2 separate regions of the Homo sapiens genome follow, and region 2 is linked to region 1. Evidence: fine-mapped expression QTL. Tissue or cell type: uterus. Region 1 holds a variant in brackets; the other region holds the start of a gene. All regions are shown on one strand. Distances are from middle to middle.

What was found. PIP is the estimated chance that this variant, and not a neighbour inherited with it, causes the effect.
Region 2: it holds the start of UPF3B, and the variant in region 1 is fine-mapped to the expression of UPF3B in uterus (GTEx, PIP 0.95).

Annotation. Positions count from the first base shown.
Region 1 is chrX:119,799,939-119,808,040 of GRCh38, forward strand. It overlaps LOC107985694 (a long non-coding RNA gene), which reads left to right. Exons shown (of 3, transcript XR_001755949.2): 3 at 5,441-8,102. It also overlaps a transcript of UPF3B not described here. Among named protein-coding and RNA genes, the nearest start is that of RPL39, 12 kb to the left of the region's middle. The variant A/G (reference allele first, on the strand shown) is at 4,097.
Region 2 is chrX:119,848,940-119,857,041 of GRCh38, forward strand. UPF3B (UPF3B regulator of nonsense mediated mRNA decay) reads right to left here and starts at 4,024. Exons shown (of 11, transcript NM_080632.3): 1 at 3,834-4,024; 2 at 2,828-2,934; 3 at 2,556-2,662. The coding sequence starts at 3,989. RefSeq lists an enhancer at 3,999-4,058.

The DNA of each region.
Region 1 (8,102 bases):
AAAAATACAGAAACCATTCTTAGCTCTCAGGCTGTACAAAAACACGCAGTGGCCAGGTTTGGTCCATAGGCTGTAATTTGCTGAGCCTAGGCCTAGATAATTATGTCAAGACTCTCCTCTCCCTCCTCAAACCTGCAACCCTTCTTCCTCCATTCTCACACTCAGTTGAGGACCTGGCTTCCTAGTCACTGAGAAAATTTAAGCAATCACAAGAGAACTCCCACAGCCCATCCACACATGCTATCTGCCAACACCTCCACGTGACTATTCCCCCATCCCTCTGTTACTGTGAATGAAACGTTTGAACTATGTCCGGCCTGTCTGCTCGCTTGTGCCCTAGATCCAAACCTCTCTCGCCCATTCAACAACCCTGCTCTGACTAGTCTTCCCTTTCTGTCCTTGCTGTTCACTGCATTATTCCCATCAACATACAAATAAATATGCTGTCATCTTAAAAAAGCTGCTTTTTACTCCAACTCCCTTGCCAGCTACTTCTTCTTCTCCTTCCCTTTACAACAAAACCCTGGTAAAGATTTGTCTTCATTCACTGTTTCCAACTTCTCTCCCATTCTTTAAGTGAGATACAATTCACGTAATATGAAAATCACCGTTTTTTTATTTTATTTTATTTTTGAGACAGAGTCTTGCTCTGTCAGGCTGGAGTGCAATGGCGTGATCTCAGCTCACTGCAACCTCGGCCTCCCGAGTTCAAGCGATTCTCCTGCCCCAACCTCCCAAGTAGCTGGGATTACAGGCATGCACCACCACACCCAGCTAATTTTTGTATTTTTAGTAGAGGCAGGGTTTCACCATGTTGGCCACGCTGGTCTTGAACTCCTGACCTCAGGTGATCTGCCCACCTCGGCCTCCCAGAGTGCTGGGATTACAGGTGTCAGCCACCGCACCGGCCACTATTTTATTTTATTTTATTTATTTTTGAGATAGAGTCTCTGTCACCCAGGCTGGAGTGCAGTGGCATGAACTCAGCTCACTGCAACCTCCGCCTCCTGGGTTCTAGTGATTCTCCTACCTCAGCCTCCCAAGTAGCTGGGATTACAGGCATGTGCCACCACGCCTGGCTAATTTTGTATTTTTAGTGGAGATGGGGTTTTGCCATGTTGGCCCAGCTGGTCTTGAACTCTTGACCTCAGGTGATCCACCCGCCTCAGCCTCCCAAAGTGCTAGGATTACAGATGTGAGCCACCGTGCCTGGCCTAGCAGTCACTCTTTCATTCCCACTCTTCTCTCAGCCCTAGGAAACCACTAATCTATTTTCCGTCTCTGTGGATTTGCCTATTCTGGATATTTTATATAAATGGAGACACAATATGTAGCCTTTTGTGTCTGCTTTCTTTCACTTAGCATAATGTTTTCAAGGTTCATCCATGTTGTAGCATGAATCAGTATTTCATTTTTTTTAGAAGTGGGGTCTCACTATATTGCCCAGGCTGGTCTTGAACTCCTGAGCTCAAGCAATCATCCCACCTTGGCCTCCCAAAGTGCTAGAATTACAGGTGTGAGGCACTGTGCCAGGCCAACATTTTTTATTTTTTTTAATAGAGACAGGGTCTCACTATGTTGCCCAGGCTAGTCTCGAACTCCTAAGTTCAAGTGATGCTCCCACCTCAGCCTCCCAAATGCTAGGATTACCTGGAAGAGCTCTCATGCCCGGCTCATTTTTCTTTCTCTTTCTCTTTCTTTTTTTTTCTTTCTTTCTTTCCTTTCTCCTTTTTTTCTTTCTTTCCTTCCTTCTTTCCTTCTTTCCTTTCCTTCCTTCTTTCCTTCCTTCCTCCCTCCCTCTTCTCTCTCCCTCCTTTCCTTCCTTTTTTCCTTCCTTCCTTCTTTCATTCCTCCCTCCCTCCCTCTCTCCTTCCCTCTTTCCTTCCTCCTTCCCTCCCTCTCACTCTTTTCCTTGCTTCCTTTTCTTTCTCTTTTTCTTTTTCTTTCTCTCTCTTTCTCTTTCCCTCCCTCCCTCCTTCTCTTTCCCTCCCTCCCTCCTTCTTTCTTTTTTCTTTCTCCTTCCTTCTTTCCTTATTTCCTTTTCCTTCCTTCCTTCTTCTCTTTCCCTTCCTTTCTCCCTCCCTCCCTTTTCTTTCTCTTTTCTTTCCTTCCTTTCTCTTTCTCCTTCCTTCCTCCTCCTTTTTCTCTTTCTCCCTTTCTCTCCTTCCTTCCTTCTTTCCTTTTTTCCTTCCTTCCTTTCTTCCCTCCCTCCCTCCCTCCCTTTTCTTTCTTTCCCTTCCTCCCTCCCTCCCTTTCTTTCCTCTTTTCTTTCTTTTTCCTTCCTTCCTTCCTTTCCATTTTTTTCCTCCTTCCTTTCTTTCTTCTTGACAGAGTCTTGCTCTCTTGCCCAGGCTGGAGTGCACTGGTGTGATCTTGGCTCACTGCAACCTCTGCCTCCTGGGTTCAAGCAATTCTCCTGACACAGCCTCCTGAGTAGCTGGGACCACAGGCTTGTGCCAACACGCCTGGCTGACTTTTGTATTTTTAATATTTTTTCTTTTTTTTTTTTTTTGGTGTTTATTTTTTTGAGACAGAGTCTCAGTCTGTCACCCAGGCAGCAGTGCAGTGGCGCGATCTTGGCTCACTGCAACCTCCATCTCTCAGGTTCAAGCAATTCTCCTGCCTCAGCCTCCCAAGTAGCTTGGATTGCAGATGTGCACTACCACGCCCGGCTAATTTTTGTATTTTTAGTAGGGGTGGGGTTTCACCATGTTGGCCAAGCTGGTCTTGAAGTCCTGACCTCAAGTGATCCTCCCGCCTCGGCCTCCCGAAGTGCTGGCATTTCAAGCATGAGCCACCACGCCCAGCCGTATTTTTAGTGGCCAACCTTGCTGGCCACTCCTCCTCCTTGAAACACTTTTCTCTTGGATTAAGTAACACCGGAGTCTTCTGGTATTTCTCCTACTCTGGCTATTCTTTCTGTCTTTGTAGATACATTTCCTTACCTCTGTGTAATGTTAAGAGTTCTTTAAGGCTGGGCCCTAGGTCTGCTTCTGTTCCTACTTCACTCTCTCCCCATAAAGTGACAGAATCCATGGTCATGACTTCAATGGACCCCTAAAAATGGATGAATTCCAAATCCATACATCCATTTCCCACCTGCCATTCACCCCTCACTATAACATGGTTTCTATCTCTTTTAGGTCATCAGTTTCATTAGTTCACTAATGAAATCACGACTGCCAAATCCAATGAACACTTCCATTTCTTGTCTTCCTTAATCTCTCTGTGGCATGGGACAATGTCAGCCAATCTCCTTCTTGAAATTTTCCCTTCCCTTAATCCTCTCGCCCATCTGACAGTCATTCACTTTCAATCATTTTTGGTGGCTCTTGTACCTCCCTCTTGGGCTACTTGTTTCTAAAAGCTGAGGAAACAAAGTTATTTAGAAAGTAAAGGCAAAGTGATGCCATGTTAGGAAGGGCTGGCAGAATGAATGAAAATCAGGCAAAAGCTCAAGGATGTTGTCTAAACATTTTGTTCTTAAGGGACCAGAATAGTTGATGTGGTTTGGATATTTGTCCCCACCCAAATCTCATGGAAATATAATCCCCAGTGTTGTAGGTGGGGCCTGGTGGGGTGTTGGGGTTATGGGGCAGATCCCTCATGGCTTGGTGCTGTCCTCTCCATAGTGAGTTTTACAGAGCTGGTTGTTGTAAAGTGTGGCACCTCCTCCCCGCACTCACTCTCTTGCTCACTCTGTGATGTGGGATGTCTTCTGCTTCACTTTCCACCATGAGTAAAAGCTCCCTGAGGCTTTCCCAAAACTCGAGCAGATACCAGTGCCACACTTCCTGTACAGCCTGCAGAACTGGGAGCCAATTAAATCTCTTTTCTTATAAATTATCCAGTCTCAGGTATTTATTTATTTATTTATTTATTTATTTTTCTGAGGCAGAGTCTCATTCTGTTGCCCAGGCTGGAGTGCAGTGGTGTGATCTCGGCTCATTGCAGCCTCCACCTTCCTGGGTTCAAGTGATTCTCCTGCCTCAGCCTCCTGAGCAGCTGGGATTACAGGCACCTGCCACCATGCCTGGCTAATTTTTGTATTTTTAGTAGAGATGGGGTTTCATCATTTTGGCCAGGCTGGTCTCAA[A/G]CTCCTGACCTCAAGTGATCCGCCCATCTCAGCCTTCCAAAGTGTTGGGATTACAGGCGGGAGCCACTGCACCTGGCCAGGTATTTTTTTTTTTTCTTTTTTTGAGATGGAGTCTCACTCTGTCACCCAGACTGGAGTACAGTGGCACAATCTCGGCTCACTGCAACCTCCACCTCCCTGGTTCAAGTGATTCTTCTGCCTCCGCCTTCTGAGTAGCTGGGGACTACAGGCGTGTGCCACCACGCCCAGCTAATTTTTTGTATTTTTAGTAGAGATGTGGTTTCACCATGTTGGCCAGGCTGGTCTCAAACTCCTAACCTCGTGATCCACCCACCTCAGCCTCCCAAAATGCTGGGATTACAGGCATATGCCACTGCCCCCAGCCCCGGCCAGGTATTTCTTTATAATAATGTAAGAACAGCCTGTATTAGTTCGTTTTCACACTGCTGATAAAGACATACCCGAGGCCAGGAGTGGTGGCTCATGCCTGTAATCCCAGCACTTTGGGAGGCCGAGGCAGTGGATCACCTGAGGTCGGGAGTTCAAGACCAGCCTGGCCAACATGGTGAATTCCCATCTCTACTAAAAATACGAAATTTAGCCAGGCACGGTGGCGGATGGCTGTAATCTCAGCTACTAGGGAGGCTGAGGCAGGAGAATTGCTTGAATCTGGGAGGTGGAGGTTTCAGTGAGTTGAGATCACGCCACTGCACTCCAGCCTGGGTGACAGAGTAAGACCTTGTCTCAAAAAAAAAAAAAAAAAAAAAAAAAGACATACCCGAAACTGGGATGGAAAAGAGGCTTTAATGGACTCACAGTTCCACATGGGTAGGGAGGCCCCACAATTATGGCAGAAGGCAAGGAGGAGCAAGTCATGTCTTACATGGATGGCAGCAGGACAAAAAGAGCTTGTGCCGGGGAACTCCTCTTTATGAAACCATCAGATCTTGTGAGACTTCTTCACTATCATGGGAACAGCACAGGAAAGACCTGCCCCATTATTCAATTACCTCTCACTGGGTCCCTCACACAACATGTAGGAATTCAAGATGAGATGTGGGTGGGGGCACAGCCAAAAAACATCAGGCCTAATATAGGAGTGAACCATGAACTGATTTTTCCCTGGTAGACAAAACAAAGGCATGCCAGTGAAAGCAGAAACTAATATCATTCATGCACTTTTGAAATTCTCCAGAGGTTAATTCAGTATCAAAAATTTAATTTCTCAAATATAACAGCTATTTAGTGAAGTTAATAAACACACTTAGCTTCATACTTGAATGTTGTTACTATTTATTGACATCAAAACAAAACAAGCTGAGACTAAAAGTTGCTATTTAACAGGAACAGACATTGATGCAGTTTCCTTCCTGGAGAGGGTACACACTCAGATCATGAGACCTAAGATAAAACACACACTGGATTGTCAAGAATCAAACAAGGACTACCAATGGGATCTAATTAAACTAAAGAGCTTCTGCACAGCAAAAGAAACTACCATCAGGGTGAACAGGCAACCTACAAAATGGGAGAAAATTTTCGCAACCTACTCATCTGACGAAGGGCTAATATCCAGAATCTACAATGACCTCAAATAAATTTACAAGAAAAAACAACCCCATCAAAAAGTGGGCTAAGGACATGAACAGACACTTCTCAAAAGAAGACATTTATGCAGCCAAAAAACACATGAAAAAATGCTCATCATCCCTGGCCATCAGAGAAATGCAAATCAAAACCACAATGAGATACCATCTCACACCAGTTAGAATGGCAATCATTAAAAAGTCAGGAAACAACAGGTGCTGGAGAGGATGTGGAGAAATAGGAACACTTTTACACTGTTGGTGGGACTGTAAACTAGTTCAACCATTGTGGAAGTCAGTGTGGCGATTCCTCAGGGATCTAGAACTAGAAATACCATTTGACCCAGCCATCCCATTACTGGGTATATACCCAAAGGACTATAAATCATGCTGCTATAAAGACACATGCACACGTATGTTTACTGCGGCATTATTCACAATAGCAAAGACTTGGAACCAACCCAAATGTCCAACAATGATAGACTGGATTAAGAAAATGTGGCACATATACACCATGGAATACTATGCAGCCATAAAAAATGATGAGTTCATGTCCTTTGTAGGGACATGGATGAAACTGGAAATCATCATTCTCAGTAAACTATTGCAAGAACAAAAAACCAAACACCGCATATTCTCACTCATAGGTGGGAATTGAACAATGAGATCACATGGACACAGGAAGGGGAATATCACACTCTGGGGACTGTGGTGGGGTTGGGGGAGGGGGGAGGGATAGCATTGGGAGATATACCTAATGCTAGATGACGAGTTAGTGGGTGCAGCACACCAGCATGGCACATGTATACATATGTAACTAACCTGCACAATGTGCACATGTACCCTAAAACTTAAAGTATAATAAAAAATAAAAAAAGCTGAAGATAAAAGCAGATGTTTGAAAATATTCTTCATGCTAAGCTCATGTAAGCAAACAAAAAACTAAAAGTAATCCTTAAACTTTAGGACATTAGATGCAGAAGTAACATGACTATTTAAATTTTGGCACCAACAAAAGTTTGTTCTATCCTTCACTGTACTTATACTACAAGGACATGCTTGTTGCTTCTACACTTCCCAAAGTCAACAGTTATCATCAACAATGCAATAAAACTAGATTGGAATGGACGGGCACGGTGGCTCATACCTGTAATCCCAGCACTTTGGAAGGCCGAAGCGGGGGGAATCACCTGAGGTCAGGAGTTCAAGACCAGCGTGGCCAACGTGGTGAAACCCCATGTCTACTAAAAATACAAAAATTAGCCAGGCAAGGTGGCGGGCACCTGTAATCCCAGCTACTCGGGAGGCTGAGGCAGGAGAATCAGTTGAACCCAGGAGGTGGAGGTTGCAGTGAACCGACATTGAGCCACTGTACTCCAGGCTGGGCAACAGGGTGAGACCCTGTCTAAAAAAAAAAAAAAAAAAAAAAAAGAAAAAAAAAAAAGAAAATTCAACTCGGGATGAACAACAGCTTTTGATTTTAGAACCAGCTCTTACTTTTCTCTCGTGTCATACGTAATGAAGTCCTCACTTGACATTTCCCTGCAAATTGCAATGCATGTCCTCACCATCAGCTTTTTCTGACACTAAAATTAATTTGTATAAATTGCAAAAGCAATGAAATTGTACTTCCAATTCTGAACCTCTGATCAGATTCCTGCTTTGACACAAGACTTACTCCTCTGCAGTGTACCCCACCAGCACAACCACCCCCTTTCTCTCTATTCTTTGCCCTGAAGGCACTTCTGGATTGCTTAACGTGTGCTCTTTGGCTGCCTAGACAGTCAGTACACCTAAGGCCATCTGGACTTAACACTCCCTTCCTCCTTCTTTTCTATGGTTAATATCACTTTCCTGCTTTCTTTCTACTGCTGAATCTCCAGATTGGTGCTGCCATCTTGCCACCAGAATCGACCTGGGCTTCGAGCTCCTGGATGGTAAAGCTTCATCCCTGGATGATCCTGAAGTATAATGAAATATGTTACTGTTAGAACAATGCTAATATGCTTTAAATGGGATTATCAGGTCATATCTTATATATATTAATATATACTAAAGCTCAGTAATTTAAGACCAAAAATGTGAGGGCATGGTAAATGACAACTTGCCCATTTCCTCTCTCCATCTCCAAAGAAAAGCAACCATTTTATAATTATTATTTTATAAGCCTGGTTCAGTTTCTTTTTTTTCAGAGATATCATCTCACTGTGTCACCCAGGCTGAAGTGCAAGTGGCACAATTGCAGCTCACTGCAGCCTCGACATTCCAGACTCAAGCGATCCTCCCACCTCAGCTCCCTAGTAGCTGGGATTGCAGGCAGGTGCAACCACACTGGGCTAAGTTTTTAAATTTTTAGTAGAGAGGGGGTCTCCCTATGTTATCCAGGCGGGTCTTGAACTCCTGAAGTTAAGTGATCCTCC
Region 2 (8,102 bases), 49 kb after region 1:
ACGCTTTAAGAGGATGAATTTTATTATAGGTGAGTTATATTTCAATACAAAAACCCCAAGTGACTAATGGGAAAAAAATTCACAAGCACCCTGTCACAGAATGTCAAAAACAAGGTATCCTATCCTTAAATCATTGGCATGTAGACATAAGCAGAAAAATAAAAATAAACAGAATTGACCAGAAGGCACTGCAAAGCAGTCATGGAGGAAAAATTATGTTGGGAATCCCAGTGAGTAGAGAATCAGATTAGCTTCAAAACTGTGATATATTAGGCCAGGCATGGTGGCTCACGCCTGTAATCCCAGCACTTTGGGAGGCTGAGGCGGGTGGATTGCTTGAGGCCAGGAGTTTGAGACCAGCCTGGCCAACATGGTGAAACCCCATCTCCTAAAATTACAAAAATTAGCTGGGCGTGGCGGCACACACCTGTAATCCCAGCTAAGTCGGCAGGCTGAGGAACGAGAATTGCTTGAACCCAGGAGGCGGAGGTTGTAATGAGCCAAGATTGTGCCACTGTACTCCAGCCTGGGCGACAGAGTTAAGACTCTGTCTCAAAAAAAAAAAGAGAGAGAGAGAGAAGAAAAAGAAAAAAAACAAAAATAAAAACCAAAAAACAAAACTGTGATATATTTGAGAAGGAATAGATAAACCAGACTGAAACAGAGGGAAATTGTGGAAGACAGGCTGAAGAAACAGAAGTGAGGCCAGAATATGGAGGACCCTGACTACCAGGCTAAGGAGTTTGGACTTTTTCCCCCAACTGTTAATTTAAATCATTATTTTCAAAAAGATTAATTTCATGGCAATATAATAGACTGAATTATACAAGAATGAAAAAAATGGAAAATCCTGTAAGTTTAGAGACAGTGGTTGTCTAGGCATTAAGTGATGAGGACATAAAGTGTGACTGTTTAAGGCTAGGTGAACAAGATATTAAAAAAAAACAATAAAATCCAGCCTGGGCAACATAAGCAGACCTTGTCTCTAAGATTTAAAAACAAAACAAAACAAACAAACAAACAAAAAACACAATGAGGAAAGGATAGTCTCTTTAATAAGTGGTGTTGAGCTGGGTATGGTGGCTCGCACCTGTAATCCCAGCACTTTGGGAGGCTGAGGTGGGGGGGGGGAAATCACTTGAGCCCAGGAGTTCAAGACCAGCCTGGGCAACGTAGTGAGACCCCATCTCTATAAAAAATTTAAAGAAAATTAGCCAGGCATGGTGACATACATCTGTAGTCCCAGCTACTCAGGAGGCTGAGGTGGGAGGATTGCTTGAGTCCAGGAATTCCAGGCTGCAGTGAGCTCTGATTGCGCCACAGCACTCCAGCCTGGGTGGAGACCCTATCTCAAAAGATAAACAATAAATTGACAAGATTCATAACTTACATGTAAGAGATTTTTAAAAAAGGAAAAAATTAAACACAACTCAGATTTCCAGGCTAAGTAACTAGAATCTAGTTAAATATCTACTGGAATAAAATAGTTGGAGTGGAAAAATAGCTGGCTTGGGGAGATTAATAAAAGTTGGACAAACAGTGGCAATCCTTCAATTTTTACTGGCATAGTCCCTGACAAAAATTTAATTTTTACCAACTTTGAAGTAATATTGAAAAAAACAAAACAAAACAAGAAGACACACTATTTACCTATAATTGCAAACCAAAAAGAAAAGTGGCAAATGGCAGCTTAGATATTCTCTGGCTAAATGTAGGTAGCAGATAATAGAGTGTTAAAGTAGAAATGTGTCTTCCCTATAGACTGGACCTTTCTGGATATAAAGTAAGAGATGTATCAAGTTTCTTTTTTTCGATTTTGAGACAGAGTCTCGCTCTGTCGCCAGGCTGGAGTGCAGTGGCGTGATCTCAGCTCACTGCAACCTCTGCCTCCCAGGTTCAAGCGATTCTTCTGCCTCAGCCTCCCAAGTAGCTGGGATTACAGGCGTGGACCGCCACGCCTGGCTAATTTTTTTAGCATTTTTAGTAGAGATGGGGTTTCACCACGTTGGCCAGGCTGGTCTCGATCTCCTGACCTCGTGATCCACCTGCCTCGGCATCCCAAAGTGCTGGGATAACAGGCGTGAGCCACCACACCAGGCCGAGATGTATCAAGTTTCATGTTTTAATTATATACAACTTTGTGAGAATGTTAAACAGTATCCCAATTGGGAACTGTTGGCTTAATGGATTTGAATTAAATAAATGTTTGTCCTCGAAGCAAAATAAGAAGTAAATATTTAAAACTTATCAAACAAGTTTAAGAGTCACTTATCAGTACTGCGGCTGAAATTCTACAGTCAAAACAGCAGGTTTAAGCCAGGGCAAAAAATGTGTCACACGAGGAGAAAACAGTTGCAATTTCACTCAGTTGATCAAACTAAAAAAATAGTAGGTTAATAAAAATAACCAAGGACTGTGAAAAGTCACGTCTATTTATAAGACTGCAATAAGCTTATTAAATGTGTAAAACTCTAGGAAGCAACGCAATGCACGAGTTGTCTTAAACATACAAATGACAAAGAAATTCCCTTTTTACTTCAGTTACCAGGACTCACCTTTATTGTCAAGGAATACATAACCATCAAAGCGATCCCTGAACAAAATAATGTCCTCTTGGTTTTTAAAGTTGATGTATGCTCTGGCATACATATGAGGATACAAACTGCAGAGAGGAAAGCAATTATGTAAATGTACTCGCAGGTGTCTGGCCCAATTACAAGTATGCATATATTAAAGACAAGCTCAAAAATCAAATGAAAAACAGTAGGATAAAAAGAATGAAAGAAACCTTTTTCATTTACCCCTTTCCTTTTTTTTTTTTTTTTACCTCGTATCATTAGAAAAAAACTCAAAATAATCATGCTCAGGCATAGGTTGAAGATGTTCCTGAAGCTGCTCCTTGGTCAAAGTGGGAGGTAATCTTCGAATTACCACCTTAAGAAATGCATAAGGAAAATAAAATTAGTACAAATCAGTTTTCTGTCATACCTGAAAGAATCACAGTTCCTGAAGAAGGCTGGGCTTTAAAATATGAGATCACTTGTAAAAACCCAGGAGAAAATATTCTTCTGCAGCCCAATGCTCAGAATTAGTCAAACATAATAGTAACGCGGTTTAAAAAAACCCTTGGAAATGAGAACCACCTGGAGCAAGGAAAAATCGCAGGTTTTGCTCTTTACAGCAGCCCTGCAGTTTACCAGGTTTGTGCATCATTTTCGATCACCCATTTTTTAACAGATCTAGTGGCAATAACTTAGTAAGCCAACGCTGGTCTTTGTGGGTGCCACGAAATCTTGATTTAGCAACAAGTTTCTCCCACGTCCAACACATCTTAAAACAAAATCCTTGCCCATTGAACTTAAGAATTCAAAACTCTAACGAATACAAAAAATCTACCCATTGCTCTCAAAATAGGATGCTCTCGATCTACCCTCCTGTACCATTAATCACCCTGCACTCTCCCCCAACTCGCCTCCATGAATAATATTCCCATCCCTCATGTCTCCTTCACTATTTAATATTTCTCCCCAATTACACCTTTAGTTCCTCATTCTTTATACCGTCGCTCTTCCCTCCCATTATCATCTCACAGCTCTGACCTAAACCCTTCCCGTTTGGGGAGTCCCCTCTTTTCCTCACCCCCACCCAGGATTTGGCCGGGAGGGGCTCTCCCCATTTCGGGTGAATGGATGAACCAGGATGATGCGACTTCCATTCAGGCGAAGAGATAGAAGGAGAACCTGAGAAAGAAAGGGGGCAGCCCCATTCCCAGCCATCCTCCCCGCGCTGCGGACTCGTCCCGCCCTCTCCCGGGCCAGCGGCCGACCGGGCACCTTGCTCAGCGCTTCTTTCTTCTCCTTGTTGCGATCCTGCTTATCTTCCCCCTTGGAGCTGTCCCCCGAGGTCCCACCACCGCTGCCTGTGGCCCCGGCGGGGGTTAACAGGGTTACTCGCTTCTCCTTAGGCCTGTGCTCCTTCTCTTCCTTCATGGCTACGTCCCCCGCTGAAGCGGCTTGGCCGGAACGGGGTTACCCCGGGCACAAACGGCTCCCGGGAAGCTCCCGTCAAAGCTCCGCCCCCAACAAATGCCCCTTGTGATAAGTCGGGCCCCACGTTCCATTGGGTCCTGCCAAGCTCTCGCGAGACTTGGGCCTTTCCCAGTGCAAAGGTTTTAACACCTGGTTTTTACTTCCCGCCCGCCAAGTTCCTGCGCCACCCAATCCCCTCGCGGCCCAGACTCCCTCGGGGCCCGCCCCTTCGCGCGTCATTAGCAATTCCGCCATCTTGAAGTGACTCTGTCGGGGACTACAAATCCCGGCATACAAAGCAGCTACCCGCTTTTGTTGGGCGTTCAGGGGCCAGAGCTATCTCAGGGTCCCTGTTTGTGAGTAAATCGAATCCTTTCATCTTCAGAGTTTTCCAGGTCGAAAGATAGGTTCTTCACGCTTAGTTTCCATCAGATAAACTCAATGCCGTCCAAATTTTGCCTCACTAGGGGAGCGACTTGTATTTTTTATCATTGAATTCAGAGGCTTTAGCATTTATTTTCCTACAACTAAAAGAAAAAGCCTAACATTTAAAAAACTTTATTTTCCTTATATTGATTAGGATTTACAGATACTTAGTAAATACTACAATATTAGCCGAGTTCAGTGGCGCACGCCTGTAGTCCCAGCTGCTCGGGAAGGTTGAGAAGAGAGGATCTTGAGCCCAGGAATTCGAGGCTGCAGTGAGCCATGATCGCGCCGCTGCACTCCAGCTTGGGCGACAGAGCGAGACCCTGTATATAAAAAAGAAGGATAATAATAAATAAACACAAGATACTGATATTTAAAGGAGTAATATGACTAAAATATACAAGATTTGTTTTCATCACCTTATTTTAGCAAAAGGATCCTTCTCCCCAGGTACTGATGTCCCACAGGGAGGGGAATAAAAATAAAACCCAACTTGATTTAGTTGCGATCACCATCTTCACTTAAAAAGGGCCAATTTTACATTATTTATAATAACTCCAAACTGGAAACAATCCAAATGTGAATCTAACAGTGATTATGTTGAGTGACAGAATCTAGACACAGAGTACATGTTGTACAATTCCATTTATATGAAATTTTAGAAAAATAAAACCACAGTGATAGAAAGCAGATCAGTCGGCCAGGCGTGGTGGCTCACGCCTGTAATCCCAGCACTTTAGGAGGCCAAGGTGGGTGGATCACCTGAGGTCAGGAGTTCGAGACCAGCCTGGCTAACTTGGCGAAACCCTGTCTCTACTAAAAACAAAAAAAATTAGCAGGGCGTGGTGGCACATTCCTGTAATCCCAGCACTTTGAGAGGCCGAGGCCGGCGGATCACCTGAGATCAGGAGTTCGACACCAGCCTGGCCAACTTGGTGAAACCCTGTCTCTACTAAAATACAAAAATTATCTGGGCATGGTGGCAGGCGCCTGTAGTCCCAGCTATTTGGGAGGCTGAGGCAGGAGAGTCACTTGAACCTGGGAGGCGGAGGTTGCAGTGAGCCGAGGTTGTGCCACCGCACTCCAACCTGGGTGACAGAGTGAGACTCCATCTCAAAAAGAGAGAGAGACACAGACACCCATAGAGGACAGAAACCAAATTAAAGATGCAATAGGAGCCCAAGGCAGAAAGCTGCCTAAGGGCCAACTCCCATTTTTGCCGACCTCTAGAATATATTCCCCTGACTCTGCACTTAAATTTTCTCACTCCAATTGTCCAGCCTATTCTTGGATTCCTATTCCTGTGGCTAAAACGGTTTCCCTGTATTTGACATCTGTTACTCTTGCTTTCAGTACCTGGCCGTTCTTATGAGCCTTGTTTATGCATCTGCCTCTGACCTACTGCTTAGCTCTGCACTTGCATGTTGGTAGTGTATGCCTCTGTTTTGGTGTCCTCACTAGCTTTAAACCACCAGCTGTTTGTCAGTTGCCAGAATAAAGTGTCCCAGGGCTCAGTCCTTAGACCTCTTTTCTATGTACACTCACTCCTTTATTAATCTCATTCATTCTTTTGGCTTTTCTGTCTTTGCTGACAACTCTACTCTAGAATTTACATGTCCAGGCCGGGCGTGGTGGCTCACAGCTGTAATCTCAGCACTTTGGGAGGCCGAGGCGGGTGGATCACCTGAGGTCGGGAGTTCGAGACCAGCCTGGCCAACATGTGACATCCCGTCTCTACTAAAAATACAAAAAAATTAGCCGGGCGTGGTGGCAGGCAGCTATAATCCCAGCTACTCAGGAGGCTGAGGCAGGTGATTCGCTTGAACCCAGGAGGTCGAGGTTGCAGTGAGCCGAGATTGTGCCAGTGCACTCCAGTCTGGGCGACAGAGCGAGACTCCGTCTCAAAACCAAAACAAAACAAAAAAAGAATTTACATCTCCAGCCCATACCTCCCTGATGATTTCCAGAGTCATGTATCCAACTGCCTATTGAACATCTCCACTTAAGACGTCTAACGTGTTCAGCCACCGAATGCATCCAAAACTGAACACTTGATCTTCCCCCACACCAACTGTATTAGCCTCCTATTCCTGCTGTAACATTACCACAAATTTAGTGGGTTTAAATAATGCAAGTGTATTATCTTACAGTTCTGTAGGTTAAAAGTCCAACAAGGTTTTAGCTTTGTCCTGTGAGGGGGCAAAAAAATATAGTAATAATAAATAAACAAACAGTCCAATATGGGTCTCACTGGGCTAAAATCAAGGTGTTGGCAGGACTGAGTTCCTTCCTGGAGGCTCTAGGAGATAATAGATTTCCTTGTCTTTTTCAGATTCTTGAGGCGGCCCATATTCCTTGGCTTATGAACCCTTCGTCTTCAAGCATCTCTCTCTGACCCTGCCCCTACTTCTGTCTATTGTCTATATCTCTTTTATTCTCTGCCTTGCCATTCCAAGTTTTTTTTTCAGGGTCACAGTTCACTGAAGGCTTAAACTCCTGAGCTGAAGTGATCCTCCTGCCTTAGCCTCCCAAATAGCTGGGACTACAGGTGCATGCCACCATGCCCAGCTAATTTATTTTCATTTTTGTAGAGAAGGGGTCTCACTGTGTTGCCCAGGCTGGTCTCCAACTCCTGGCCTCTGCACTTTCCCCTTTCACTTTGAAGGACTCCTGTGTTTACATTGTGTCCGCCTGTAAAATCCAGGATAATCTCCCTATTTTAAGGACAGCTGATTAGCAACATTAATTTCCTTTTGCTATATAACCTAACACAGTCATGGGTTCTGGGGATTAGGATGTGTACAACTTTGGGGGAGATATTATTCTACCTAACACATACTGTAGACTTCCTTTTTGATGAAACTTTTAATTGCAGTATAACAGATGTACAGACAAGTGCACTAAAAGTAAGCATCCAGCTTGCTGAATTTTCACAAAGTGAACACACTTATGTAACCAGCATGTAGATCAAGAAACAAAACATTGCCAGCACTCCAGATGCTCTCTTCCTACTTGTTCCCAGTCATTTTCGCCACCAAGAATACCACTATCCTTTTTGCTTTTTCTTTTTTAGCAGCTACATCCTTTTATGAATGACTTCTAATACTATTGAGTTTGTCTGTTTTGAACTTTATGTAAATTGAATCATACAGCATGTATTCTTTTATGTTAGGCTCCTTTCTCTCAACATTTATGACTGAGATTTCTTTATTTATTTATTTAGAGACGGAATCTCGCTCTGTCGCCCAGGCTGAGGTGCAGTGGCGCCATCTTGGCTTACATCTTGGCTCACTGCAACCTCCACCTCCCGGGTTCAAGCGATTCTTCTGCCTCAGCCTCCCGAGTAGCTGGGAGTACAGGCGTGTGCCACCACGCCCGGCTAATTTTTGTATTTTTAGTAGAAATGGGGTTTCACCATATTGGCTGTTGGATACAGTGAGATCTAGATCTCTCTTCAAAGAATCAGTATGTCAGTATGTTCAGTTCTTTGTCCTCCATTGTAAAGTTTAACTTCCTCGTAGTTTCAGTAAACAACATTTTCCACCAGTTTTCATCAGTAGTTCACATCTGTTCCCCTGGTTACCTGCTCCGTCCTGACTCACCCCGGTCATCCGCTTTGACCTGAGTCACCCCTGGTCCCTGCTC